Linked DNA regions of Homo sapiens. The protein of the gene in region 3 interacts with the protein of the main gene of each other region in a pairwise test. Each region holds a gene or a part of one and is shown on either strand. Other genes may lie near its edges.

The links.
Region 1: the proteins of MTMR9 (region 3) and NECAB2 interact in binary tests that used the Homo sapiens proteins (3 or more experiments, as listed by UniProt).
Region 2: the proteins of MTMR9 (region 3) and PTPN3 interact in binary tests that used the Homo sapiens proteins (3 or more experiments, as listed by UniProt).
Region 4: the proteins of MTMR9 (region 3) and EMILIN1 interact in binary tests that used the Homo sapiens proteins (3 or more experiments, as listed by UniProt).

What each region holds. Positions count from the first base shown.
Region 1 is NC_000016.10:83,971,219-83,978,248, forward strand, and holds part of NECAB2 (N-terminal EF-hand calcium-binding protein 2), read left to right. Parts: intron 1-932; coding exon 933-957; intron 958-7,030. UniProt on the Homo sapiens protein: May act as a signaling scaffold protein that senses intracellular calcium.
Region 2 is NC_000009.12:109,418,299-109,425,328, forward strand, and holds part of PTPN3 (tyrosine-protein phosphatase non-receptor type 3), read right to left. Parts: intron 4,555-7,030; coding exon 4,420-4,554; intron 3,188-4,419; exon of another isoform or gene 2,936-3,187; intron 2,303-2,935; coding exon 2,126-2,302; intron 1-2,125.
Region 3 is NC_000008.11:11,301,814-11,308,843, reverse strand, and holds part of MTMR9 (myotubularin-related protein 9), read right to left. Parts: intron 4,004-7,030; coding exon 3,830-4,003; intron 2,655-3,829; coding exon 2,437-2,654; intron 1-2,436. UniProt on the Homo sapiens protein: Acts as an adapter for myotubularin-related phosphatases. Increases lipid phosphatase MTMR6 catalytic activity, specifically towards phosphatidylinositol 3,5-bisphosphate and MTMR6 binding affinity for phosphorylated phosphatidylinositols.
Region 4 is NC_000002.12:27,081,585-27,086,903, reverse strand, and holds the end of EMILIN1 (EMILIN-1 precursor), read right to left. Parts: intron 4,822-5,319; coding exon 2,893-4,821; intron 2,490-2,892; coding exon 2,373-2,489; intron 1,914-2,372; coding exon 1,896-1,913; intron 1,745-1,895; coding exon 1,607-1,744; intron 1,227-1,606; coding exon 889-1,226; 3' UTR 501-888; downstream 1-500. UniProt on the Homo sapiens protein: Involved in elastic and collagen fibers formation. It is required for EFEMP2 deposition into the extracellular matrix, and collagen network assembly and cross-linking via protein-lysine 6-oxidase/LOX activity.

The DNA.
Region 1 (7,030 bases), on a different chromosome or scaffold from region 3:
CAAACAGCTCCTGTGAATAGCAAGGTCTTAGCGCACAGGTGTCAACATTGGGCCTGGGAGGCTTTAAAAATGCTGAAATCAGAGTGGGCCTCACAGCAGCTGATTCAGTCACCCTGGGGTGTGGCCCGGGCTGAGGAGGTTTTGAAAGCTCTCCAGGCGATGGTGTTGGAAGGGGCGGAAAGCTGCCTTCGAGCCTCAGCCTGGCAAGCAGCACCTGCCAGCCAGACCTTGAGGAAAGGGGAGCAGCTCTGTCCCACGGATTCAGATGTCACTGGAAAGGCAGAACGAGGAGGCACCTGGTCTTGTAGGTTCAGGCCAGCCTTGGAGCTGCCCTCCACCCATCCCTGCCTAATGCAGCCGGAACTTCGTCTGCGGCTGCTTTTCTGAACTCTTGGCGTCCTGTTTCTCCTCCTGCACCCCAAAATTAACGCAGTCCTGCCCGTGGCTGGCATTGTCACCAGGCCTTGCAAACACCTCTGTCGGACTTTGCCCAACCTCCCTGGAAACACACCAGGGGTTTTGGAAGGACTGCAGTGGTAAAGGTTGTGGCGCTCCCTGGGACACTGATTCGGAGTGTGGTTGTGTGCAGCTGAGCGTTTGGCGGTGGGTGAAGCCACGTGGACTGATGACTGTGGACCTACACCTGCAGGGATGGCCGTGGGCCTGCGTGTGTGTGTCAGCGTGGCTGGGAGCAGGCTGGTGGTACTGGCAGCCGCTTCCACGTGGGTGAGGGGAGGGCCTCTGTCTGCAACATCCCTCATCAGTTCCCCCTGGATCCCAGCCCGGGGAGGGGGAGAGGGAAGGGGGGCTCAGCTTCCCAGGACCCTAAGCTGCTCCTGGGAGAAGAGAAGGATCCCAGTATCCGGTCAGAGGCTGCAGGAAGCGCTTGCCTCTCCCTGGCCCAGGGCTGACTCCGCCTCTCTTTTCTGCAGATTTTCCGCCGTGCGGACAAAAATGGTGAGTTTCCCTTCCAGGCCGACGGCCGCCCCACTCCTTCTGTCCTCGTGCTTCATGGGGAAGGGATCAGGGATAGGAGACAAGCGCAACCTTGAACCTAAAGGTTTGGAGTGCAGGGGTCTGAAGTTAGAAGGCCAAATCCTGCTGCTGCTCTGTGCCTTGACCTCCCTGTCTGTAAAACGGGAATCCTAGTAGGGCCTACTTAGTAGGGACAGCTCCACTCAAGGGCTCAGTGAGTCTTGTCTGTGATGCCAAGAACAATGACTGGCCGTGGTAAGGGCTGGGTGTACTTTAGGCCTTTTCCTAGCTGGGCTGGACCAGAGGAGCCCGGGCTGGGGCCCAGAAACCCTCCTTGAAAGGAAGCCGCCAGCCTCACGCTAGGCCCTTCACAAGCCTTGGTGCAGTTCTTCATCGTAGCAACCTGAGCAGTCAGTGCTCTTGCCTCTGTTGACACCATAGCAGCCCAGAGAGGTTAAGCAATTTGCCCCAGGGTTGCCCAGCTGCATGAAGGAAACGGAGGCTCTCCTGAAGACCGGGGCCCTTTTCCCTTTCTCTCTCAGCCTCTTTAAAAATGTGAGCAGCGCCTTGTTGTGGCCACGGAATTCATAGCGCTCCACTTCTCCCGACTCCTTGGAGGGGCTTCACTTGCAGAAGGAGCCCAGGCCTTGAGAGAATAAGCACGTTTAGGCGGCCCAGCTGAGCCTCGGCTGACAAAAAGCACCTTCTTAAAAATACCAGAATCATTATTACAGTTGCAACGCAACTCACCGTGGACTTGAACCAAGACAGATTCCCTCTCTGGGCCTTGGTTTTCCCGTGGGTAAAGTGGGGCAATAACACTTGCCCTGCCTCCTTCCCTGGGTTTTGGGGAAAAGCCAGAGAGGCGGTGTGGGTGACAAATGTTTTTAAAGAGAATCGCGTGCTCCCGGTATGTTCATTCATTGAGAAAATGCACATCAAGTACCAAGCCTGTGGCAGGGGAAGAGCACGCAACAGAGACCCTGTGACCTGCCCCAGGGCCCTTGGTCCCCAACGCCTCTGGCCCCGGTTCCTCTCCTGCACAAGCTGCAGTTGAGGGTGGCAGCTCTGGCCTGGGTCTCCAGCACCCGCCTCATCCCTGGGAGTTCCTGTTGACGGCTCCCACCCAGGGCGGTTGCAGGGTGGAGTTGGAGGCCTTGGGCATGGTGGGAGGGCAGGTGCACAGGCCTGGGCTGGAATCAGTTCCAACGAGTCTCCCACCCTGGCCTCCTGCATCCCTGGGGGGTGACAGTGACCACTCCCAGGCCTCTGGGGAAGAAGGACCATCAGCAGTGATTCCATACGGAGCAGAGGAGGAATAAGAGGGACGTAGGGAGATGAAGTGGCTCTGGAAAAACAGCCGTAGCATCATGGCCTGAAAAGCCTTGGAGATGAGGAGGGGAAATCAGGGGGCTGTCCCTGAGATGGGGTCGCCGGAGCCCTCAGCGTCATTGCCTGTGTGCTGGCCTGGCTCCTCCAGCAGGTTGAGAGGTAGGGATTTGGGTTTGTCCCTTGTCCCGGGCCTGATACCCAGCACACAGTAGGTCCTCGGTAAATGTCTGTAGACTTGGTGGACGTGTTTGTTGGTGAGAGCGTGGCTGTGCGTATCTCGGTGACTCAGCAGCGTGAGGCTGTTGGGAATGCGTGTGTCCAGCGTGGGCCTCTAGCCATGGCTGTGCATCCCGAGTGTGTGTGCAGTTAGTGTGCGTGTGTGGCTTCCTGAGTGTGCAGCTCTGCAGGAGCCACTGCAGTGTATACACTTGGGCAGGTGGTGCCTGGCCCCCTCGGGCACAGATGGGGTTCTGTCCTTGCTGCAGGCTCCCCCCATCAGAGGCCATGTGTCCACCCCCTGAGCACAGCTGTGGGACTCTCAGTTTCCTTACTGCAGCCTCCTCAAAGGCCGAGCCTGTTCCTTCTCCTTGGGGCTTACATCTTACCAGCCACCACTATGTGACCGTTAGGGGCTGTCACCAGGGTGAATGTGGGTGTGAGATGCGGGTTCCAGCAAGAGCTTCCCAGGTCCCCCAGCCTGACTGCCTAGGCTCAAGTCCTGGCTCAGCCGCGTACCGGCTCTGGCCTCAGGCAAGTCACCAAATTCTGCAGTCTCAGTTTCCTTATCTGTAAATGGGAATAATTACAGCACCCACCTCAGAGGGCTGTCTGAGGATAGATAGTTGCTCTCCTGGCTTCGCTCATTGAAGATATCAATAAGTCCCCGCTGCTCTGCCTCAAATGCCTCGGAAATGGGAGTCCGCAGGTGTGGCTTGTCCAGAGGGGTTTGATTCCTCTGTGCTCAGCAGGGAATTCGGTCTGGGGGAGGCTGCCAGCAGTCACTGAACGTCTGTTATGCACCAGGACTTGAATGTGCTTTTTCCTTTAATCTTCATTGTGATCCTCCTGAGACAAGAAGTATCAACCCCCACCCTCCTTCCAGATGACGAAAACAAGGCTCGGAGATGGCACGTGATATTCTTCACATGGTCGGGGGGCAGCGGTGCAGGCAGGTTCTGATTCAACACAGCAGCTTAAAAGCTTGTAGGAGTGGGGATGGGACTTGGTGTGGGTATAGATAGGGGAGTGGTGTGGGAATAGAATGGCTGGGGAAAGAGGAATGAGTGTAGGGGTGAGAATAGGTGTCAAGGAGGTGTGGATCCAAGAATGAGAGCAGGTGTGCAGGGAGGTGTGGGTGCAGGGATGAGAGCAGGTGTGCAGGGAGGCGTGGGTGCGGGGATGGGAACAGGTGTGCAGGGAGGTGTGGGTGCAGGGATGGGAACAGGTGTGCAGGGAGGTGTGGGTGCGGGAATGTGAACCGGTGTGCAGGGATGAGAGCAGGTGTGCAGGGAGGTGTGCAGGGATGAGAGCAGGTGTGCAGGGAGGTGTGGGTGCAGGGATGAGAACAGGTGTGCAGGGATGAGAGCAGGTGTGCAGGGAGGTGTGCAGGGATGAGAGCAGGTGTGCAGGGAGGTGTGGGTGCAGGGATGGGAACAGGTGTGCAGGGAGGTGTTGGTGCGGGGATGGGAACAGGTGTGCAGGGAGGTGTTGGTGCGGGAATGTGAACCGGTGTGCAGGGAGGCGTGGGTGCGGGGATGGGAACAGGTGTGCAGGGATGAGAGCAGGTGTGCAGGGAGGTGTGGGTGCGGGGATGGGAACAGGTGTGCAGGGATGAGAACAGGTGTGCAGGGGGTGCAGATGTGGAGGCCGATAGGCCCACAAGCACACACAGGACTGCTCAACACTGACGCTAGCCCTGCCTCACGTGTCCACAGGAAGGATGGATGGGATGCCTCAGGGGAGCGGGAGATGGGGTGCAAACTCAAAGGACCCCCCAGGCTGCCCTTAGGACTTAGAGATTACAGGAACAAAGGCTCAGGGCTGCCCTGTCAGGGTGGCTCCTGTGACAGAGACTTGTTTGGCTGAGCTGGATACCGGATGCCCAGTCCCTATGGGAAGGTTAGCATGAGGGGCCTGACTGGCAGCCTGGGACATAAACTCAGGGGGTGGCAGAGGGCTGAGTGGCAGACAGCATTTCCCTTCAGGGACATGGACGCTGACAGGCTGACAGGCTCTTGGCATTTGAAAGGTCATGGAGACAGAGAGTGAGTTTGTGCTAATTAGCAAAGACACCTGCAAACGGCCCGCTTGGGGTCTCTGGCAAAAGTGCCAGCGCGGGCCCGCTTGGCCTGTCTAATTGGACTGGGGGCCTACGTAGGGCATGTTTTTTCCTCATTAGTGAATTCATTAGGGCCGTGATCAGGCGTTCAGGATAAATGTCAGCCGAAAGCTTAGTGAGGGGGCACCTTGCTGGCCTCTGTCTGCCTGCTCTCCCTGTGTGCCGAGGGGGCACCTTGCTGGTCTCTGGCTGCCTGCTCTCCCTGTGTGCAGAGGGGGCCCAAGGTACCTGGACAGGCACGTGGGGAGATGAGCCAGCCAGAGGGAGGCTGGGATTGGGGCTCACAACCCCTGTCATGCCCATGGTGACTGCCCCTCACCCAAAGTGGGGGTGCCTGAGCCAGCACCCACCCCCTGCTGGGTAGGTGGCGATGTCGCCACAAGATCCTACCCCTGGATTAGGTTGAGAGCCTGGACTTGGGAGCCAGATGGCCTGGGTTCAAGCTTCAGCTGTAGGACCTAGGCAAGTACCCTAAGGGCTCTGTGCCTCAGTTTACCCCTCTCTAACATGGAAGTGGTAGTACTACCTGTGTCGTGAGTGTTAAGAAGACTAAAGGAGTGAGTCCGTGGAAGGTACTCCACGTGTGGTGTGACTCCACACTGGGATTCCTGGGTTTTATCTTCAGGCTTGCCGAAGACACTCGGAAGGCATCCTCTGTCACAGAACACAGAAAGCAACAACTTCGATTTCACTTATCTCGTGGCTGACTTTGCGGACTTTTAGTTGTTAGGTTTTGGGTCTTTGGTTTGTGCATGTGTGGTTGGATTGGGGTTTTTTTGGCCTTTCCTTTGAAAGACAGAAATTCTTCCCACTGTAACCTTGAAATCTGAGCTGCGATGGGGGCATCTTGGGATATTGGCCCTAGCCCCCCGTGCCCACACGTTCATATTCTTTACCGGTCTCTGATACTTTATGCTCTATGGGGTTAAAGAGAAAAGTGGTGGCATGAAACCTTGGCAAGATCTGAGGACCCCCCCTCTCCTGAGCTTATGCTCTCACCCTGTGTTGAGCTCCAGCAGAGCTGCTGGGAGCACAGACAGAAGCACTGGAGCCTTTAAAGTTTAAGAATGACTCATTCTCAACCCAAGTACGTCTGCCATGTCGGGTTAGGCAGGTTGTGCGCTGCACAAGGGCACCCACCCGAGGAAATGGAGGGTTTCAAATCCAGGCTGCAATCCGCTTTCAACACATGTGCACTGACACTGGTCTCATCCTCTCGGCAGAGAAAGGAGAGTCTTTTTCTAATCCATAGGAAGGTGCCATGTGGACTCTCAGGGCCCTTGTCCCAAGCACCCAGCTTTGAATGCAGATCCTCTGGAAGTAATGCCAGGGGTTTATGCAGAGAGGCTGGGGGCCAGGAACTGTCATGGGCTCCCTCTTGTCTCTGACCTCCATGCCACTCACATAGTTTCTCTTAAGGAGGAACAGATCCTTGAGGAGGGGGGAGGTGGCTGCAGGGCAGGTGGGGGATGAGCTTGCTGGCATTTGCTCAGCAGGTCTGTTCAGGTGGAAGGAGCTGAGGGTGGAAGCTTAGGGACCGCCTCCCAGAGTCCCTGATGTTCTTAAGCCACCTCCCCTGGTGGCCCAATCTGATCCAAACCCACAAGACCTTCCTGGTAGGGCCAAAAGTGTCCCCAGAGCAACTGCAAGTGAAGGGAAAAGGTGAGGCGATGGGTGGGACTGGTGGCATGTGTCCCACCCATCCCTCCACAGAGCCCCTCCACAGAGGAGCTGTGGAGGCCCCTCTGTGGAGCTCCACCTCAGAAGCACAGCCTCTGGCCAGAGCGTTGGCACCTCCAGGCCTGGCACCTCCTTCCTGCATGGCTTGGCATCTAGATGGCTGCATCTGTGGCCTGGGAGAGGAGGTAACTGAGAACCTCATGCCGGCCATTGGCAGCCATCTCATGCTGCCTCAGGGAAGGACCTGAAGTTTGCCACATAGATGGGGCGGAGAAGAAAGGGTTCTTCTGTACTCTAAGAACAGTGCTGAGAGAGTCAGGGCTTAGGGGCTGGGATTGGGGTTGGGAGCATGCAGAGACCACTTGGCGTTTGGAAGCTATGGAGTGGTGGCTCATCCAGCTGCTGGTTTTTGGATCCACTTCATACCGATGGTGTGACATGGGACAAGTTGCTCACAGTGGGTTATCTTAAATAGCACCTGCCTCCAGGTGGCCATGTAAATTGAGAGAAAATTCACTGGCAGGGGGCAGATACTCTATATTTGTTGAACGCATGGAAAATGTTGAGTGCATGGTGAGCCCAAGAAAGCTAGCTATTGCATTATTGTTAGTTTGAGGATTATCTGTAAACAGGCATTGGTCTGGGAATTAGCTGGATGAGGCATGATTCTCTGTGTACTGGAGTTTACTGGTTAGTGTGGGAATT
Region 2 (7,030 bases), on a different chromosome or scaffold from region 3:
GGACTTGGGAATGAATGCAAGCCCTCTAAAGTGCCTGCATGTCATTGGACAGAATGCATCCCTCCCCACCTGGCACTGATTGCATAAAGAGACAGAGGGTGCTGGGCTGTGAGGGCACTCAGAGGCTATCCACCTGCCCCATGCCACAGATGAGCAGCTGGGTGAGTGGTGTGGAGCGCCCAGACTGCAAGCAAGGTGATGATTCCAAACCTACTCCCACATGAATTCTGTGTGAAAAATGCACTTTTCGCTTGTAGATATTCTAGGGGTTCACCCTTTAAATGAACGATGGAATAAACGTGTTAGTCTAGATGAGTGCTGCTGACAACACTTTCTGCAGTGATGGGAATGGGCTGTATCTGTGCTGTCCAAGATGGAGGCCAACACTCCTGTGTGGCTGTCAAGCAATTCAAATGAGGCTCATGTGACTGAGGAACTGAATGCCTACATTTTTATTATTTTAATTAATTTAAATCTGAATAGACAACTGGGGCTGGTGGCTGCTGTACTGGACAGGGAAGGTTTAGATGCTGTACAATTCTGTGATGGGACTGCAAACCACCACAGGAAGCTCTGACGCAGCAGGTGTGAGTGGGCTTCCCAGAGCCCTCCAACGCTTCCCTAAACCGTTTTCTCCTTTTGCCAAAGCCGCAGAGCCCCCACTGCAGACTCAAAACGGCTCTAGTCACGCATGCCTGCACTCCTGCTTTGTATTTCTAGATGTGCTTGTGGTTTGAAAAGCTACAAAGTCACACAAAGGAACTCACAATCATCCACTGTAGCCCTGACAAAGGGGCAGCAGGCTGCAAGTTGGAACAAGAGATAGCAATCATTTAGCAAAAGCATCATCCAAGCTCAGGTCACAAGGAAAGAATGACCACAGGGATTATTTAACCAGAGGTGTTAAGAACACAGATAAACTGGAAACCATGTTTGCTGTGGGCAAGGACAGAGGAGAGGTAGCAGCCTCACATACAAATGGGAAGGAGATTTGCAATTCACCTGCAAATGCCTGGAGTCCAATCAGGGTGCATTTGATGCTTTCAGCCTAATAGCTACAGTGGTAAAAAATTTACAGATTAACTAACGTGCCTGCTTGCTAATCCTCAGCTGTTAGGGGGGCCATTATCTTACTATATTTTAGAAATAGTATGGGGCTTAACAGAATAGATACCCAATGACTATGGTTGATTTCCTAACAGTTGATCCTTTACTATCATGCTTTAACCTAATTTATAATCTATGTCTTACCTACTTAAAAAAATGATTTGCGAGTTTACCCCAAAACGTACAGATATGTAACTATGAATCCATTAAAATAAGAAAAAAAAGACCCATATAACAAAGGCAAATGAGGAAGAGAAGGTCCTATACAAGAAATCTGGGCTGAGGGAAGTGAATACAATTGAGCCTAATGTGCAGTTCTGAACTCCCTGGTAACCAAGGCAAAAAGGGAAACAAATGGGTTAAATATATCCTATTGAATAACAAAAGCACTCAACCATCTTTCAGGACAGACATTTTTTCTGTCCTTGAGCTATGAGGGAACTCTGTCACGTTAAAAAAGCGGGGTGGGGGAGGTAGGACATAAAAATTTAACAAAAAATTTCTCAAAGAAAATTAGAGATGTTCTAACGTTTGTTTCTTTATACTAACTATTAATTGAAAACAAAACCCCTCAGAACCCTGTTGTTCGGAGAAGGCTTTTAGAAGCAAGCATATTTCCAATGATTTGAAATCATGTGATGGTAAAACTTTAATAATCTAGAGAAATCAGAGTTAGCATGGCCCTAGAGTCTGTACCTCCAGAACAGGGAATGATTAAACTGGGCTTTGCTTGTGAGCTGGAGAGGAGACTAATTCAAGAGACTAACAAGTACTTAGTGACTAGGAAGTCTTTGTCGTGGACAAAAAGAAGTACAAGCTCTAGACCCCAGGCACATAGACCGTCTTCCGGGTGAAAAGGTAGAGTCTGATTTATGTTCTTATCCTGGCAGAAGGCACCTGTGGGAGCTGGCTGCAGGCACCAGCTCTTGGTTCCTCTCAAATGGCAACCTGGACCTGAGCAAATTCCGCAACAGCCAAAAAGCAAATACCCAGAAATAAAACAACACGAGTTTCTTACTCTTGGTGCGGGCTTCGGTTCTGAGAAACTTCAGAATCGCTGTCTTGAGGGGCCAGAGAGCCCTTGTACGTGTAAAATACATCTTCCGTTTCCGTGATGTAGGTCATTTCATTTGCAAGGTTATCTGCAGAAGAGTGGCGTGGCTTTCGGATTTCGTGCCGGAGCCGAGGACTTCGCCTGGGTGGGAAAAACGTTGAGTGCAAAGTGTTCAAAGCAAATTCCACTTAAAAATTTTATTAGACACCAGTGAACCTCGTGTCCTGACCTTTCTAAGGATGCCTTCCTTGGCGGAGGCTGACATTCAGAGCCGGTTAACTCATTACTACCCCAGCAGAAGGCACCAAGGGTGACACAAATCCCTAACACTCTCAGTCAAGTGGTGGCTCCCAAAACAGTAGCCTCAGCTGTATAAACAGGCAGAATTAGATGGGTTTATGCCCTTTGGGAAGTGACGGGTATTGACTTAAGGGTAAGTTATTCTTCCAGGAGGACTCAAGCTCTCAAAACATAAATAGGCCATATGGACTGCTATTCAGATAATTTTTCTGATTAATTTGAACAATGCAAACAAAAGGGTTAGAAGCCAAACTACATTTCTCAGCAAAACTCCAACCTTATTTCAACGACATCCCTTCATGTGAATTTCACTTGATCCAAGAGAAAATGTTTGCTTTTTAAGATATATCCCTTATTAAACACGTTTATATGCATTAGATGGGCATATAAACACTGGACTGTCCTCCAACAGTGGCAGTAGGCATGTGACCTTGGGCAAGGCACGTCACCTCTCTGGGCCTCGGCTGTACTTACCTGCTCCTGAGAATGAATCCAATGAGGCCGTGTTCTCAGGGCATCCAGTGTGGCACCTGGGCGTCAGCTCCTGCAGCGGGGGATCCCAAGCTGCCAAGCTTTCTAAGTTCTATTTTCCCTCACAGTTTTTCCATCTTCCCTTTCTTTGTTAGCCATTTCTCCTCAGGACTGTCAGGGCCTCCATGATTTGCAATCCCCCTGGGCCTGGATAATCAATAATGCTGTGTCCAAAGCAGAAGTAAAAAGGCTCTTGTGACTCCTCAGGAGAGGACCTATAAATAGCCACAGGAGCTCCGGGCCACGAGTGTGGCAACATCCAACCCCGCTGTTCCCCTGGATCCAGTCCTGGGCTCTCTGGGCCCCTGGCATTGCTGCCGATGAGATTTTCAGATAAATTAAGCTGCTGTGTTATAGCATAAATTTACCTCTTTAGAATGAGGTATCTAAATGTTGGAAACCAAGAAGCAAATCTATTCAGTTACGTCATGATTTCTAACACTAAATACTATCACTGTCCCTTCCCAGAGCATTAGGCCCCCAGTGAAGGGGTCCTTCCCTAGCAGGCCCAGCACAGCATCTCCTCTGTCTGCCTGTCTCCCAGTTTCTCTTAGGCTTAGCAGATCCTGGATCAGGTATTTACAGCCACGCACTCTTACTCCAGTGTGGAGCTGGGGGCAATGATTCCCTGCTAGGTTTCCCCTCTGGCCCCTAGCCTTTTTGGAGGTATTCACAAAAATGGTGTGATGTCTTTGAGGACCATTATAATAAGATAATGATAATTCCACCTGACTCTTTTAAAAGCTTACTACGTACTTGTACATTATTATTTCATTTGCGGTAGTTTTTATCATCTTTTTAGATATGGGGAAACTGAGGCTACAGAGGTAAAGAAACTTGTTAATTAACAGAAGGGCCAAAACCTGAGTTTAGGTCTTTCTGCTACAAACCCAGTGCCCTTCTCACTTTACCAAACGACCACCTATTTCTTTTTAAGCTGAGTCCATCCTCTTAAGTTGGCCTGCTACTTACTGATGTGCATTTGCTTCTGCTGCTGAAGGTCATACATCCTTACATCATTTACATCACGTACCTGCGTTAGTTTTCCCTAAAGTTTATTTTGTGGGATATTAATGGAAAACATGAATTAAGTAAAGCTAACCGTACTTTTTTATTATTGGACGTCTCAGAGTGTTTAATATGCTAATGTGTGCTGTGATTCCAAAGGAGGCCTTTCAGCAGGCTCGAGTTTCCCAAACTATTTAGATTGAATAAGTTTTTTTAAAAAGAGCATCTCAGCATTATACACGATGGAAAACATTTAGCTAGACTTGTGTACTTCATGAAAACAGTTACTTCTGCCAAGAGCCTAAAATGCAAATTGTAGGTCATCTATCTTTAGGAGTTTATAAGTTGAGTTTTTATTTTTAAAAGAGATAAAGTGTCTACTGTTGGGTAGTACAAAAAAAAAAAAAAGGAGGACATACCAGTTGGGAGTAATGGGAGGGGAACGAGAAGGCAGACTCTTGGTTTCTAAGTGCTCCACTGATAAGGATCTCCGCATGGCTGGGTTCCACACCATCCCGCCAATCACCTTTTTGCAATATTGGTTATTTACCGACCTGAAAAACCAGATGCAGGTTCACTTTCTACACTGACGTTCAACAGGAAAGAAATTACTGCATGTGTGAAACAGTCTACACATGCTTCTTGTCTGAAGGACGGCAGGTTAATGCCAAGGTTATGGGGAGTAGAGGGAGACAGCTCAAAAGCGATTCCTGTCTGTCCTGGAATTTCCTTATGTGATTTCTTCTCTTCGGGTGAAAATCCTTTCTTGTCCTCACTACTCAAGCAACAAAGCTGTTTCCAGAATATAACCAAACCTAACCAGATTAGAAGGAATTCCAGGATCACACAGAAATACAGCTCCAGTGATTTCAAGGAATTCTTATTTTATTCACACTGGCCTAAGTAAAAATATTAACCATTTTTTCAGGTGCTCTTCATCATCCTAGCTGGCAGGAGCTGTCACTATAAATCACTGGTAAATCTTTGAGAGAGAATCTGAAAATGCGCTTAGAAAGTAGTTTCAAACTGGGCACAGTGGCTCATGCCTGCAATCCCAGCATTTTGGGAGGCTGAGGCGGGTGGATCACTTGAGGTCAGGAGTTCAAGACCAGCCTGGCCAACATGGCAAAACCCTACCTCTACTAAAAATACAAAAAATTAGCCAGGTATAGTGGCGCATGCCTATAATTCCAGCTACTTGGGAGGCTGAGGCATGAGAACCCCCTGAATCCCCGAGACAGAGGTTGCAGCGAGCCAAGATCGCACCACTGCACTCCAGTCTGGGGAACACAGTAAGACTCTGTCTCCAAAAACAAAAAATTATACAGAGTTTCAGGCTACGTTCTTTGAAATGTGCTACCCTGAAGGTTACTTTTGAATTTTATTTATACCTAGAGAATTTAAATCTTAGCTATCTAGACCCCTCAGAGAATGAATTATTTGAGAGAATAGAGCATGAAGCCTGTCACCCTGTTAAAGGGTGACAACTTTGGTTCTGGCATCTCTAAATTTTAAACTAGGATTTAATGTCTTATGAAAACATTCTACACATTTCCTTGTGACATGACATCAACCAACCAACAAAAACAAAACAGAACAAAGAACAAACAAAAGAACATAAACAATATGAATCGCCCTGTAGCACATCATGTACTAATTCACATTAAGAAATGCTGTTGTCACCCTGATCAAAATGCTCACAACAGCATCACTGGGAGACTCTTTCCTCTGAGGCAGGCCTACATCAGAAACCACACTGCCAGTGATGAAGAGCACAGGATCAAAACAAGGGGAGCAAACTGCCCAACTCCAAGGTTTAATGTGTCATGGGTTATTAATAGGGACTCTCTGAAAAAAAAGTGTTCCATTGTCCCATAAGCTTGGAAAATAACCCAACAAATTTCTTTTTATGTGGAACCTTTCAGAAGGCCCAATAAGCAGATGTGTATCTGTATCTCTAGGGGCTGGGCAAGTCATGTGACCCTTCTAAGCCTCAGTGTCCTCATCTGTAAAATGGAGGTAATGAGACTTGAAATTCACCAGTATGCTGAAGCTGGCACAGGTAGTAAAAGAACTGCTGACTTGTCCTCCCAAGCCATCCTCCCAACCCAAATGATCCCCTGTGGCAGATTAAAGATGACTGCAAGTTCTTTGAGTCTTGCATCTGGGTTGGCTTGTGACTGCTTTCAGCAACAGAGTCGCTGTGCCAGTGCCAGGTCTCACCCTTAAGAAGGCTGAACGGTTCTGCCTTTCGCTCCTGGAACCCTGAGTGTCCATGTAAGAAATTCAACCACCCTCCTGGAGTATCCAGATGGGGATGCTAAGGAGTCCAGGTGAGTCCAGCCTTCCAACCATTCCATCAAGACACCAGGTATGCAAGAGAAGTTATCTTGGATCCTCTGGCCACATTCACTGAGAAATCCCTATCTACACCACACAGAGCAGAAGAGGCCTCTGGCCAAGCCCTTCTAGGATTCCTGACTCACAAAGTCATGAGATATAACAGAATGGGTGTTGCTTTCAGTCACCAAAATAGGGGTATTTTCTTGTGCCACAATACAAGACCAGAACCCAGCCCTGCTGGCATTGGATGCATGCAGATGACAAAGCTTTGCAGATGAAGAAATAGAAGCAACAAATTAAAGCTCAAGTGACAGAGGCAGGATTTGAACCCAGGCAGCTCAGCAACAGAGGGCATGGTTTCAGTTGCCTCCCCATTCCTTCTCTCATCTGGCCTGAGGATCAGGCCCAACCTAAGTCAATGATATAATCCAGTAAGTTATTTTCATGGCTTGCTCAACAGTAGATCTACTGAATGTATACAAATACTAAACAGTATTATAAGAGCTAAAAACTTAATATATTCACTCTTGGTTCATCAGAAGCTGAGAGATAGCATTTAGCACCACAAATAGTATCACTGATACTAACAGAAATTAGCTACTTATTCAGTTTACAAGTTCCCTAATGATTATCAATGTATTAGGAAAGTAACTGGAACAGTCTGATGCAGTTCCACCTATCAGAAAG
Region 3 (7,030 bases):
GCCTCCAAGAGCACAGCTTTCGCCTATCAAACACAAAGGCTGGCTGTTCAAAAAGAAAGATAAAACTAACAAACCTTTAGCTGAAGGTTCTTTCACTAAAAACAGAGAGAAAAACAATGCAAATGCATACAATCAGAAATAAAGATGAGATATTACAACTGATATCACAGAAATACAAGGGATCATAAGAGACTACTGTGAACAATTACACATTAACAAATTGACTGGATAATCTAGAAGAAATGGATAAATTCCTAGAAGCATACAACCTACCAAGACTGAGTCATGAAGAAAGAAAATATGAACAGACCAATAATGAGTAAGGAGATTAAAAAGACCTCCCATCAAAGAAAAGCCCTGGTCCTGATGGCCTCACGCAGTACCTGATTTTAAAATATGCTACAAAGCTAAAGTAATCAAAACAGCTTGGCACTGGCATAAAAACAGACACATTGACTAATGGAACAGAATAAAACCCAGAAATAAATCCATGCATTTATGGTAAATTGATGTTTGAAAAAGTTGCCGAGAACATACAATGGGGAAAGGAGCTTCTCCCATGAGTGGTGGTGGAAAAACTGGGTATGCACATGCAGAAGAAACTCAACCCTTACCTCACACCATACTCAAAAATCAACTCAAAGTAGATTAAAGACTTAAACATAAGGCCTGAAACTGTAAAAATCATTAGAGGAAAACATAAGGAAAAAGCTTCTTGACATTGGTCTGGGAAAAGTTATTTTGGATATGACCTCAAAAGCAGAGGCAACAAAAGCAAAAATAGACAAATGAGACTGAACAAACTAACAAGTTTTGCACAGCAAAACAATCAACAGAGTAAAGAGACAACCTATGGAATGGGAGAAAACATTTGTGAACACCACACTGGATAAGGGGTTAATATCCAAAATATGTAAGAAACTCAACTCAACAGCAAGAAAACACAAAACCTGATTAAAGAATGGGCAAGACCTGAACAGACATTTCTCAAAAGAAGACATATAAATGGCCAATAGGTATTTGAAAAAAAAAATGCTCTGCATCACTCATCAACAGAGAAATGAAATTCAAAACCACAATGAGATATCACCTCACCCCTGTTAGAATGGCTATTACTAAAAAGACAAGATTTAACAACTGTTGTTGAGAATATGGACAAAAGGGAACCCCTGTACAATGCTGGTGGGAATGTAAATTAGTATGGCCACTGTGGAAAACAGTATGGAGGCTCCTCAAAACATTAAAGATGAAACTGCAATAAGATCCAGTAATCCCACTTCTGGGTAAATATTTTGAATATCGGAAACGAAATCAGGATCTCAAAGAGGTATCTGCATTCCCACGTTCACTGCAGCACTATTCACAATAGTCAAGATATGGATTCAACCTAAATGCACGTCAATGGATGAATGGATTAAGAAAATGTGGTACAATACACAATAAAATACTATTCAGCCTTAAAAAAGAGGGTAGGCCAGGCACAGTGGCTCATGCCTGTAATTTCAACACTTTGAGGGGCCGAGGCAGGAGGATCACTTGAGGTCAGGAGTTCGAGACCAGCCTGACCAACATGGCAAAACCTGGTCTCTGCTAAAAATACAAAAATTAGCCAGGCGTGGTAGCAGGCACCTGTAGTCCCAGCTACTTGGGAAGCTGAGACAGGAGAATCACTTGAACCTGGGAGGCAGAGATTGCAGTGAGCTGGGATCGTGCCACTGCACTCCAGCCTGGCTGACAGAGCAAGACTCCATCCCAAAAAAATAAAATAAAAATAAAAAAGAGGGGAAGCCTGTCATTTGCAATAGCACAGATGAACCTGGATGACATCATGCTATATGAAATAAGTCAGGCACCCATGCACAGAAAGATAAACACTGCATGAACTCACTTATATGTGGAATCTAAACAAGTTAAACTCATAGAAACAGAGAGTAGAATGGTGGTTGCCAGAGGAAGAGAAAGTAGCAGGAGGGGTCGGGGTAGGAGGGACACAGATATGGGGACATGTTGATCAAAGGTAACAACAAAGTTTCACTTAGGAGGAATTAGTTCTGTAGGTCTATTGTACAGCATGGTAACTGTAGTTAAAACTAATATATTGTATGCTTGAAAACTGCTAAGAGAATAGATATTAAATGTTCTCACCATCCAAAAAAATGATAACTATGCGACGTGATAGGTTAATTCACTTAATCAGTTCACAATGTATATGTATATCAAAATAGCACAGTGTACATCACAAATACATGTAATTTTTATTTGTCAATCAAACCTTAATAGAGCTGACCAAAAAAAAATGAGAAGATGGCTAGCCCATCATTGACCCTAAATTAATGCAGAAGTTAATTTGAGCACTTGTGATTTTCAAATGGCTAAGGCCTTACCCACTATAATTAGCTTCTAATAAGAGTCTGTACTATCTTTGGAATCTTTTACCTCTCAATGGACTTATGAATTCGCCTCCACTGAGGATAATGAGCTTCTTGTTCAAAGCCACCTCCTTTGGCTCTAGTTTGCTGAGCCACGTTCAGGGATCGGGTGTCAATGATGTAGCCACGCTTTCCAGCCCTGAGGGTAGCATTTATCAGCTTCTCGTCCTCCTTGCACCTCCTCCCGTTTGTACCAGTGAGTGGCTGACCACTTCGCATAATTACCTAGAAGCATAATAAAGCTGAAAATTCAACAGCAGTTGCTTTTAAAGTTTCTGAAAACAGAAAGAAATTAGCTAGATTAAGAGTATCTCAAAAACAATTGTGTGACACTCTGCAGATGGATTTGATCCATAAACAAAGAAATATTTGCATGTATTGACAATAGTTAATAACTATAAAAGATAAGCCTTAAGCTTTTACACAATTTCTCTGTCTCAAAATACTGTCACATAATAAATTATATCTCCTCTTTAAGATCAAATATTGCAATTCATTTAGTGTGTGAATCAAATACCTGTAGACCTGGACCTGTAATAAAGACAATAATGGCCTATGAGCCAGTAAACCTTGACTTCAACTAAACATACATAGAGTTGGCAGGTTTTAACAACAATTATAAGAAGTAAAGGCACCAGTGGCAAAATTTAAAAGTTCAAACACTGTTCTCATTGTTTGGGAAATCATTTTCACTACCTCAGAAGCTGACTGTCTATTATGTATTCTCCAGTGGCCTCTACCATCCTTTTCAGTATTCAAGGATTTAACTACTTGTTTCTAAAAACTACCCCACCAACTATACATCTGGAAATGTTTGCTTTTGAAACTTTTCTCTAGAAATCAATGTCTATTATACTAATCTCTTCCCTGGCGAATGGTTTAGAGTTCTTTCAAGACGCCACCATTACAAGGTAGTTATCTTAACTCCTTGTTTAATCCTGACTCCAGTGTTTACTAGAGTTGTGACTAAATGACATGAGCATCACTCTTTTCACCTTTGAAAATAAATACGTCTGCTCCACCTTTCACGTGTAAAGTTGTTAAGAAAAATTCAAGTATTTTACCATTATTCTGAACAGAGAAATTTCTCATTTTTCTACCAGAAGAATGTTGCTGTAAGCATCAAATAAACACTAGTTTCCTTTGTATAGTGTCCTGGAGATAAAGCTATCAGGGCTTTTATACGGCTGAGCAGGATCATGGAAAGAATTCAGCATCACATCCTCACCACAGAAAACACCCTACTCCTGATTCCCTAAAGCTTACATGAAGGAAGCCCTTGTGGTGGAGACCTGGACAATCATTTCAGTGAACAGACAGAGAGCAAAAGGGAACATTTCTACGAAAAGATCCCCAACCCAAGCCTTTCAGTACATCAAGCAGTAGTGCTGTGCACTTACCATCCCATTTTTTTTGTGGTAATAGCTTAGTACTGGGAAGCGCCCTCCATGTCGAAATGTAGCTACCTTCCGAAGAGCTTCATCATCGATGGATTTGGGCACTGTGACAATTGGTGGGTAAGAGGGACAGACAGCAAATTCCTTATTGACATAGCTTAGCCTCCATTCACTGGTCTGAAAAACACAAAATACTTCAAAGCTAAGCAACTATCTCAATGTCGCAAAATAATCTGAGAAATTTTAAAAGACCTTAGAGGTCAACTTTCACTGATGAAGAAGCCATTTCTCAGGAATTTCACAGGTGGATCTCTAGCTTATATGTAAGTAGCTGCAGAGAAAAGGAGCTCTATGGTTCAGGGCCAGCTTCCTGCATTGCTAGGTATCACCAGTTCCCAGAAAGTGCTTTCTCACACTGAGCAAAACTTGTTGCTCTGTAGCTCCCTCTATTGGTTTTTACTGTACTTTCAGACAACACCGTACAAGTTCCCTATTTTACACGGTATCCCATCAAATGTTTGAAAGACAGCTGATCCTCCTTAGTGTTCTATTCTCCAAGTTAAATATATTAAGCACATCCACAATTATCACGGCCAACATCATCCTACTTCTTCCTTTTCTGGGTCCCATTTAGTTTGTTAATGATCCTCTTAAAGCACAAGTAAGACTGTACGACTCCAGATAATGCATCCCCAGAACAAATGAGAACACAGCTACTATCTATATCAAACCCTTTGTTTATTTTAAAAAAGGTAAAAAATGTACTAAGATTGGTAACACCTTTCTTAAAACAGTACCAACTCAATACTAAGGAAGGTTAAGCTTAGGAGTCAATGAAATAATTTCAAACTGAGTAAGGACTAGAAGTATACAATATAAAACTATCAAATGACAACTTATTTTAAACATCAGAATTAAAAACAGCTTGAACACTGTCAAAAGGTTTTACAGTAAAAAAAAAAAATCAAATTATATGTAAATTTCAATATGTTCTGTATATCTGAGTTGGCCTAACCATGGGTTACAATAGCAGGAAGATAAAGCTAAAAAGTATGTTAGACGTACTAACAGACAAGATTATTACTTTTAAAAAATGCTTTTATAAGATACAGTATCACATTTTTAATTAAATTTTTTCACTTTTCAAAGTTATTTATGTTACCAGTTTAAAAACATAGTTTCTAGGCTGGGCACAGTGGTTCACACCTATCATCCCGGCACTTTGGGAGGCCAAGGCAGGCAAATTGCTTGAGTTCAGGAGTTCAAGACCAGCCAGGGCAACATGGCCAAACCCCATATCCACTAAAAATGCAAAAATTAGCCAGGCACAGTGGCACACACTTGTATTTCCAGCTACTTAGGATGCTGAGGTGAAAGAATCACGGGAGCCCAGGAAGTCGAGGCCACAGTGAGCTGTGACAGCGCCACTGCACTCCAGCCTGGGCAACTGGAGTGAGATTGTTTCAAAAAATAATTAATTAATTAATTTAAAAAAAACACAGTTTCTAAAGATTTATTATTTTTAAAAAAATGTAGTTATCTGTTCCTTGCTAGCCCATCCCAATTTGCTTTCCCCAAAGGCAATCATTTTCAACATTTTTAGCTTTTTCAGTGTTTACCTTTACATTTCTAAACAACATGATAATACTGTTATTTCTTGAACTTTCACTATGATATATTATTATTGATTTCCTACTCTGGAGAATGACAGGGCTCTCCATTGATCTGCAATGCCGCTTCTGTTGGTCCAAATGTACTGTGCTCTCCATCCCGTCGCACTTGTCCACTTTAGTAACTCCTATAGCTTTTAAAATAAGTTTGGTATCTAGTAGGCCAAGTGTCCTCCTCTCACCTTTTTGTTCTTCAAAGAGTAACGTGGCTCCTCTTGGTCTTTTGGTCTTCCATGCAACTTTTATCAAATTCAATATAAAAACCAACTGGGGTTTTTATTAAGATTGTATTGACTTTATAAATCGGAGGGAATGACTTACATCTTTAGAATATTCAGTCTCTCTATCCATGAGTATATTGTCTTTTCCATTTGTTTAAGCTTTCAAAATTTTTTCCATAAATTTTTATAATTCTCTCAATAAAGGTCTTACTATCTTTTCTTAGATATATTCCTAGAAACCCAATAATCTTTGTTGCATTTTAACTGCATCTCTTCAAAATTGTGTTTGGTGTACAGAAATGCCTATGATCTCAAGATTCTTTCCTTTTCCTATGTAGACAAGCATATAATCAATAAATATTGACAATTTTGCTACCTTCATTTCAATCCCTATACCCTGTATTTTTCCTTCTTGTCTTATTGAGCTGACTAGAAGTAGTCACAATGGACATCCTTGCCTCATTCTTGAACTTAGAGAGAATGATACAAGATTTGCTTTTTTTATGTTTTTGGTTTTGGTACCCATCCTTTATCAGATTAAATAAATTTCCTTCAAATCCAACTCTAAGAGCTTTTATCATAAATAGATATTGATCAAACTTTTTTCCTCTGTTAATCTAACACCATGCAGGTCATTTGTCTTTTAACTTTGTGGTATTTTCTTTGCTTTATTGTTCAGTAGCTGAACAACAACATGTCTAAAGATTTTTTTATTATCTTGTATGGTATTTGCTGGGATACCTCAGCTTAAGGGTTCAATAACTTCTACTGATTCTGGAGAATTATCAACCATTATGCATTTGAATATTGTCTTTCTTCTATCATCACCTTTTTTTTTTTTTTGTCTTCCTCTTTTTTTTTTTTTTTTTTTTTGGAGACAGGGTCTTGCTCTCTCACCCAGGCTGGAGTGCAGCGGCATTATCACTGCTCACTGCAAACTCAACTTTCTGGGCTCAAGCCATTCTCCCACCTCAGACCCCCAGGTAACTGGGACCAAAGACACACATTATCACACCTAGCTAAATTTTTTCATAGAGATGGGGTTTCACCATGTTGCCTAGGCTGGTCTCAAACTCTCCTGAGCTCAAGTGACCTGCCTGCCTCAGCCTCCTTAAGTGCTAGGATTATAGGTGTGAGCCACCATAACCAGCCTCTATCATCTTTTATCCTAAACTCCCATGTAATAAATATTGGATCTTCTTCCTTTATTAAGCATGCATGTGTCTAACCTCTCTGTTTTTCCATCTTCCTTCTCTGTTCCATATTCTGAGTAATTATTTCGGATCTATATTTCAAATCACTTATTTTCTCCT
Region 4 (5,319 bases), on a different chromosome or scaffold from region 3:
GCGCGGCTAAGCGATCTCGAGAATGCAAAGAGAAAATGCGCTACTTGCCCCGCACTCTCCTGCACCTGCGTCTCCGACTCCCGACCCGGGACACGCGAGGTACAGCTGGGCCTCGCATCTGCAGCCCTGCCTGAAGCCCGCGGTCGCGGCGGCCCCGCCCCGCCCCGCCCCGCCCCGCCCCGGTTAGTCCCAGCCGAGGCCACGCCTCCGCCGCGGAGGAGCAGGACCCGCCGGGTGGGCCGCAGCCTCACGTGGCGGGAACGCAGAGCGCCCCCTGGCGGACGCCGGCGAAACGGGCGTGACACGGGGGAGACGTCGCAGGAGCCGGGCGGGCGCCGCTTGCTGCCTGAGCCAACCCCGAGCCGCCCCGAGCCGGGCGGAGGCGGCGAACGCAGTGCGGAACCCGGGGTCCTCTCCGGAGGCCGTCGTCTCTCCCGCCCCGTGCCCTGTGCACGCCCGGCAGCCCCCGACCCCGTACCGTAGCAGAACGGTTCGTTTAGTTTTTTTTAGAAAAACCAAGTGTCTTTATTCCTCGATCGTTTAGTATGGCGGTGGGCGGCGCCCGCGCGGGGGAGCCTGGAGCCCAGGGAATCGACCTGGAGGGCCAGTGGAGGGAGCGGAGGGTGCGAGGATCGGCTCCTCCGCAGGCCGGCCCTGGAGGGGTTCTTGGGGGATCGCGCCAGGCCAAAAGTCTGCATGGGCGGCCCCGAGCCTCCCTGAGCCGGCGCGCCCCGGGCGTGGGGAGAGGCCGCTCTGGGCGCGGTGCCGCTGCGGGCCCGGGTGCGGCGCTCGCCCAGGGCTAGGTGCCCCGTCTCAGGCGAGACCCCAGGAGCCCGCCGCCCCCGCTGTCTCTTCAGCCGACGTAGACACGTCGGGCGGGACCCCAGTCTACGCGTGTTCAAGCTCTGGGTCCCCATAGAGCAGGGCCCCGCTGAAGATGGTGAGCGGCTCCTCCGAGTGCGCCAGCTGCCCCATGACCAGGTCGACGCAGACCGTGTCCCCGGCCTGCAGCGGCAGGATGAGGCTGAAGACGCCCAGGGTGCCCGGGCTGGGCTGGCTCTCGGCCACCGGCTTATTCTCCAGGCCCTCAGGCTCGTAGCCACCGGAGTCTACGCGGGCCACGCCCTGGTTGGAGCGGGACAGCACGGCCTCCACTTTCTCGTGCCGGTGCCCAGTCAGCACCGCGCTCAGCAAGTAGCGTCCAGCCAGTGGCGCTGTGAACACGCCTGGGGACAAGGATAGCAGTCAGGGGGGCCAGGGAAGCTCCGGGGAGCGCACCAGAACTCCTGGACTGAGGAGGGACCCTCTGGGTCTTTTCACCTCACTGGAATGTGAGCGGCAGGGAACTGGGGGCTTTGTTCACTATGCATTCCCAGCACTTAAAACAGTGCCTGGGCAGGAGCAGGCCCCAGTAAAGATCTGCTGAATGAATGAATGACTACTTCTTCTCCCCACTGCCTGAGAATGAATAAATGAAGAAAGAGCCGGGGTCTCCCCAAATCAGAGAATGAAGATTCACACTGTCGGAAAAGGCAAGAATGGGAAGATATCACTGCACACCTCACCCATTTCTCCAACCGTTCAACCCAGCCCCTCCCAGGACTACCTGTCTCTGGATCATAATAGCCTCCATCATTGAGCAGGACTCTGTCGAAGGGGACCGTGCCTGGTTCAGACCGGGGCAAACTCAGAGCAGCTGAAAATGCCACTTGGGGCACAGGGGCTGCTGGTGCCCCCTCCACTCCTGAGTGGGAAGGGTGGATGTTAAAGGGGATGCTCAGGGCAGAGTGCCAGCCCCCTTCCCCTGCTGGATCCCCAGCCCAGGGCTGCCCGAGGACCTCTATCCTCCAACCCCTAGTCACTTCTCCCTCCAGAATCAAATGAAAGGCACTCACCCTGTTCACCTTGAGGACCTGTGAGAAGAGGAAAGGGAGCAGTGAGAAATAAAGCAGCTCTCACTAAGTCACTCAGCAAACATCTGCTGAGGCTCTCCTGTTGTGCTCGGTGCTACGTGGACTTCAAAGCAGGAATTGGGGTATCAAGAAAAACAGGAATAGGTAGGGTCCATTCTGTTCAACTGCTGGGCCATCCCAGCCTTTCACACCCCAGACAGCTATAATAGACTCAGCTTTAGTCTCCAGTACTGCAGTGGGGCCAACATTATCCATTAGCCTCCTAATACCCATTAACCAAACACAGTGACTATCACAGTTCCTCCTCACTTTCCTCTGATTTTCCCTTATCGGTCAGGTAGTACCCAATTCCCCTTGTCAAGTTCAGAGTGGAATGTCAAGCCTGGGGCTGCCAGCGGGGGTCAGGGTTGGAGGGGGCAGTGGCAACCCTGACTGCAGCAAGGGTCTCAGTGCACATACCTGGTGGCCCGATGGGGCCCTCTTGCCCGTCCTTGCCTGGTGATCCTGGAGGTCCAGCAGGGCCTGGGGGTCCCTGCAGCCCAGGAGGCCCTGGGGGCCCAGCCTCTCCTGCAGGCCCTACAGTGACAAAATTGAGTTGAAGGAGGGCCATAAAAGGAGTTTCCAATGGGTAAGGAAGGTGGGTGGTGGCTTCATGAACAGGGAGAAGATGGATGGAACAGGTGGAGCTTTGCAGGCTGAGGGGGCCATGGGGTCCCTTGCTGCATATGCTGGATCCCTGGCTGGCAGAGCAACATCCTCTCTCCACCCACAGGCCTAGTGAGCAGCCAGAGGGAGGGCGGGAGCTAGGACCTTGCATCATCTCTTGCAGGCAAACTATAACACCTGGAATACTGGCTGGGGCTGCAATTCATGTTGGGAAAAGCAAGGAGAAAGCAGATGAGTTGGAAGCTGGGCTGGGGGAGGGAGAAGAAAAATAAGGGGCTTGAAAGGGGTCCCCTCATGCCTTTTGTCCCCTCACCAGTGAGGTCCTTCAGGCTGAGCTGGTGCAGACGGTCCTCCAGGAGCTGCAGGGAGCTGTTAAGGGCACCCAGCCGCCTGCCCAGGCCCGCCTGTCCCCCGACCAGCTTCTCCAGCAGGGCTGCCTGCATCTGGCTGGTGGTGTTGGTTTCCCGGAGCCCAGCCCAGAGCCCAGCCACGTGTCTGGAAAGGCCCTCGCGCAGGCCCTGCAGTCCCCCAGCCACAGTGTCCAACCGTTCACAGACACCCTCAAGACGGCCCAATCGCCCCTCTAAGCTGGGGCACTGGCCGGCCTGTGCTTGTCCCTCCTCTAGGCCTCGGAAGCGCTCTTCACTCTCTGTAGCATGCTCTGTGGCCTCCTGCTGCAGCCTGTTAATCTCAGAAATGATACGGTCCTTGGTTGCCCCCAGGTCAGCCAGATCAGCGCCCTGGCCCTCCACAGTGGTCTGGAGCTCATTCAGTGAGTCATTGAGGGAGCTGAAGCTGAGAATAACCTCAGAGAGCTCTCCTTGCAGGGCCTGCAGGGCTGAGCCTGAGCTGCCCCCAAACACGCTGAAGCCGTCCAGGGGCCCACGGCTTGGGCCCCCAACACCTGGACCAGCCCCAGGACCCCGAGGAGGCAACAGGGGGCAGGAGCAGCGCTCCACACCATCCCGAAGGCGGCCTAGTTCCTCTTGGACTCCGCCACAGGCCCCACAGCCCTCATCCCCATGGGCCTGCAGCAGCCCCTCCAGTTGGCCTAGCCGGGCCGCAGTGAGATTCAGCCGTAGTGTGAACTCTGCAGCTGTCTCATCCTGGGCATCCACACGATCCTGGAGCCGGCCCACAACCTCTTGTAATCCCTCCAGCGTGGCCTGCCGGGCCTCCCCCGCTGCTTCCACCGTGTGCAGGCCGGAGCCCACCAGCCGCAGCTGCCCCTCACTGTCCAGCACCCTGCGCTCCAAGGCACTGAGGATCTCGCTGACTTGAGAGTCCTGCTCCCCAGGGGCCCCAGAGCAGAGCTGCCCGCATGCCTGCATGGCCCCTGCCACCTGCTCCTCCAACAGATCCAACCGCCCCCCCAGCTCCCCGCTCACATTGGCCAGCAGCCCCCCCAACTGCTCTAGTCGGCCCCGGGCAGCAGGCAGCCAGTGGCTCAGCCCCCCAGGAGCCCCAGGCCAGCTCTCCTCCTGCTCCTCCGAAGGGCCCAGGGTGGAGTTGAAGCGGTCCTCCAGGCGAGACAGGCGGGAGGCCAAGCTGGTGTAGCCTGGGGGGTGGCCTCCCTGCCCCGCGGCTCCTCCCAGCTCTGTGCCTCGCCGCCCACTCAGCACTGTCACTGAGCCGGCCACGACATCCAGCCTGCGCTCCAGCTCTGCCAGTCGCCGGCCCAGCTCTGGAGAGCAGCATTCCTGAGGGGGCCTGCGGCCCACCGCCAGCCCTGCGAGGTGCCGTTGCCGCTCCTCCACCGAGGCCAGCAGCTTCTCCATCGCTCGCAGCCGCTCCCTGTCCTCCTGCTGCTGCCGGCGGAAGCCATCTAGCCCGGCCAGGCACACGGAGCAGGACTCCTGCAACCGCTGCTCCAGCTGCCGCAGCAGCTCCTCACTGGGGCCCGGAGGGGCTGAGGCTGGGGCTGGGGCCCTGCTGCCCCCACTGCTGCTGCTGCCGCCATGATGGTTGTTGAGGTGACCCAGCTCCTGGTCGTGGGTGGAGACGCGGGTGTCCAGGAGCTGCAGCTGGTGCTGGATCTCATTGAGGGTTTCATGCACCCCAGGGCGGGCAGCCGCGTCAGCTGGCTGCTGCCTCCCGTTGAAGGCCGTCTCCACAGCCCTCTGCACATCCTCTGCCAGGCGCCCGCTCAGTCCTTGCAGGACGCCCCGCAGGCCTTGCAGCTCCTTGGTCAGGCTCTGCACCTGTTCCTCCAGCTGCTGCACCTTCTCTGACTCCCCAGGACCTGAGGAGAGGGGAAGGCAGAAGGCAGAGGGGCTGGACCCCAGAGCTCAAGGCCCCTGCTCACCCCAGCTCCAGCAAGGGTCAGATGCCCAGGCTGGCTCTGCCTCTCCTTTGGGTGATTTTGGCAAGAGAAAAAAAAAGAAACTCCATTCACTGAATGCCTCTAGGCCAAATATGAACCATGGCTCTGTTCTTCAATAACTCCCCTGGGGAGATACCATGAACTCTTCCCATCATATAGGCTGGGAAACTGGACCAGAGATATTAGGTGCCTGGCCATGGATCACAGGTTTAATAAATGGCAGTGCTAAGTTTCAAACCCAGACCATCTATCCAGCCCCCAGGTCCATGTCCTTTCCACCTGCCCAGAGTGCCTCTTAACTTCTTGGAAACTCTTTCCTCTTCTGCGAAAGGATAATGACACTCTTCTGTCATGGGGCTGTCAAGAGGGGCGAAATGGGAGTGTAGGGAGGCACTCTGGATGCCACAACAGTAGCTA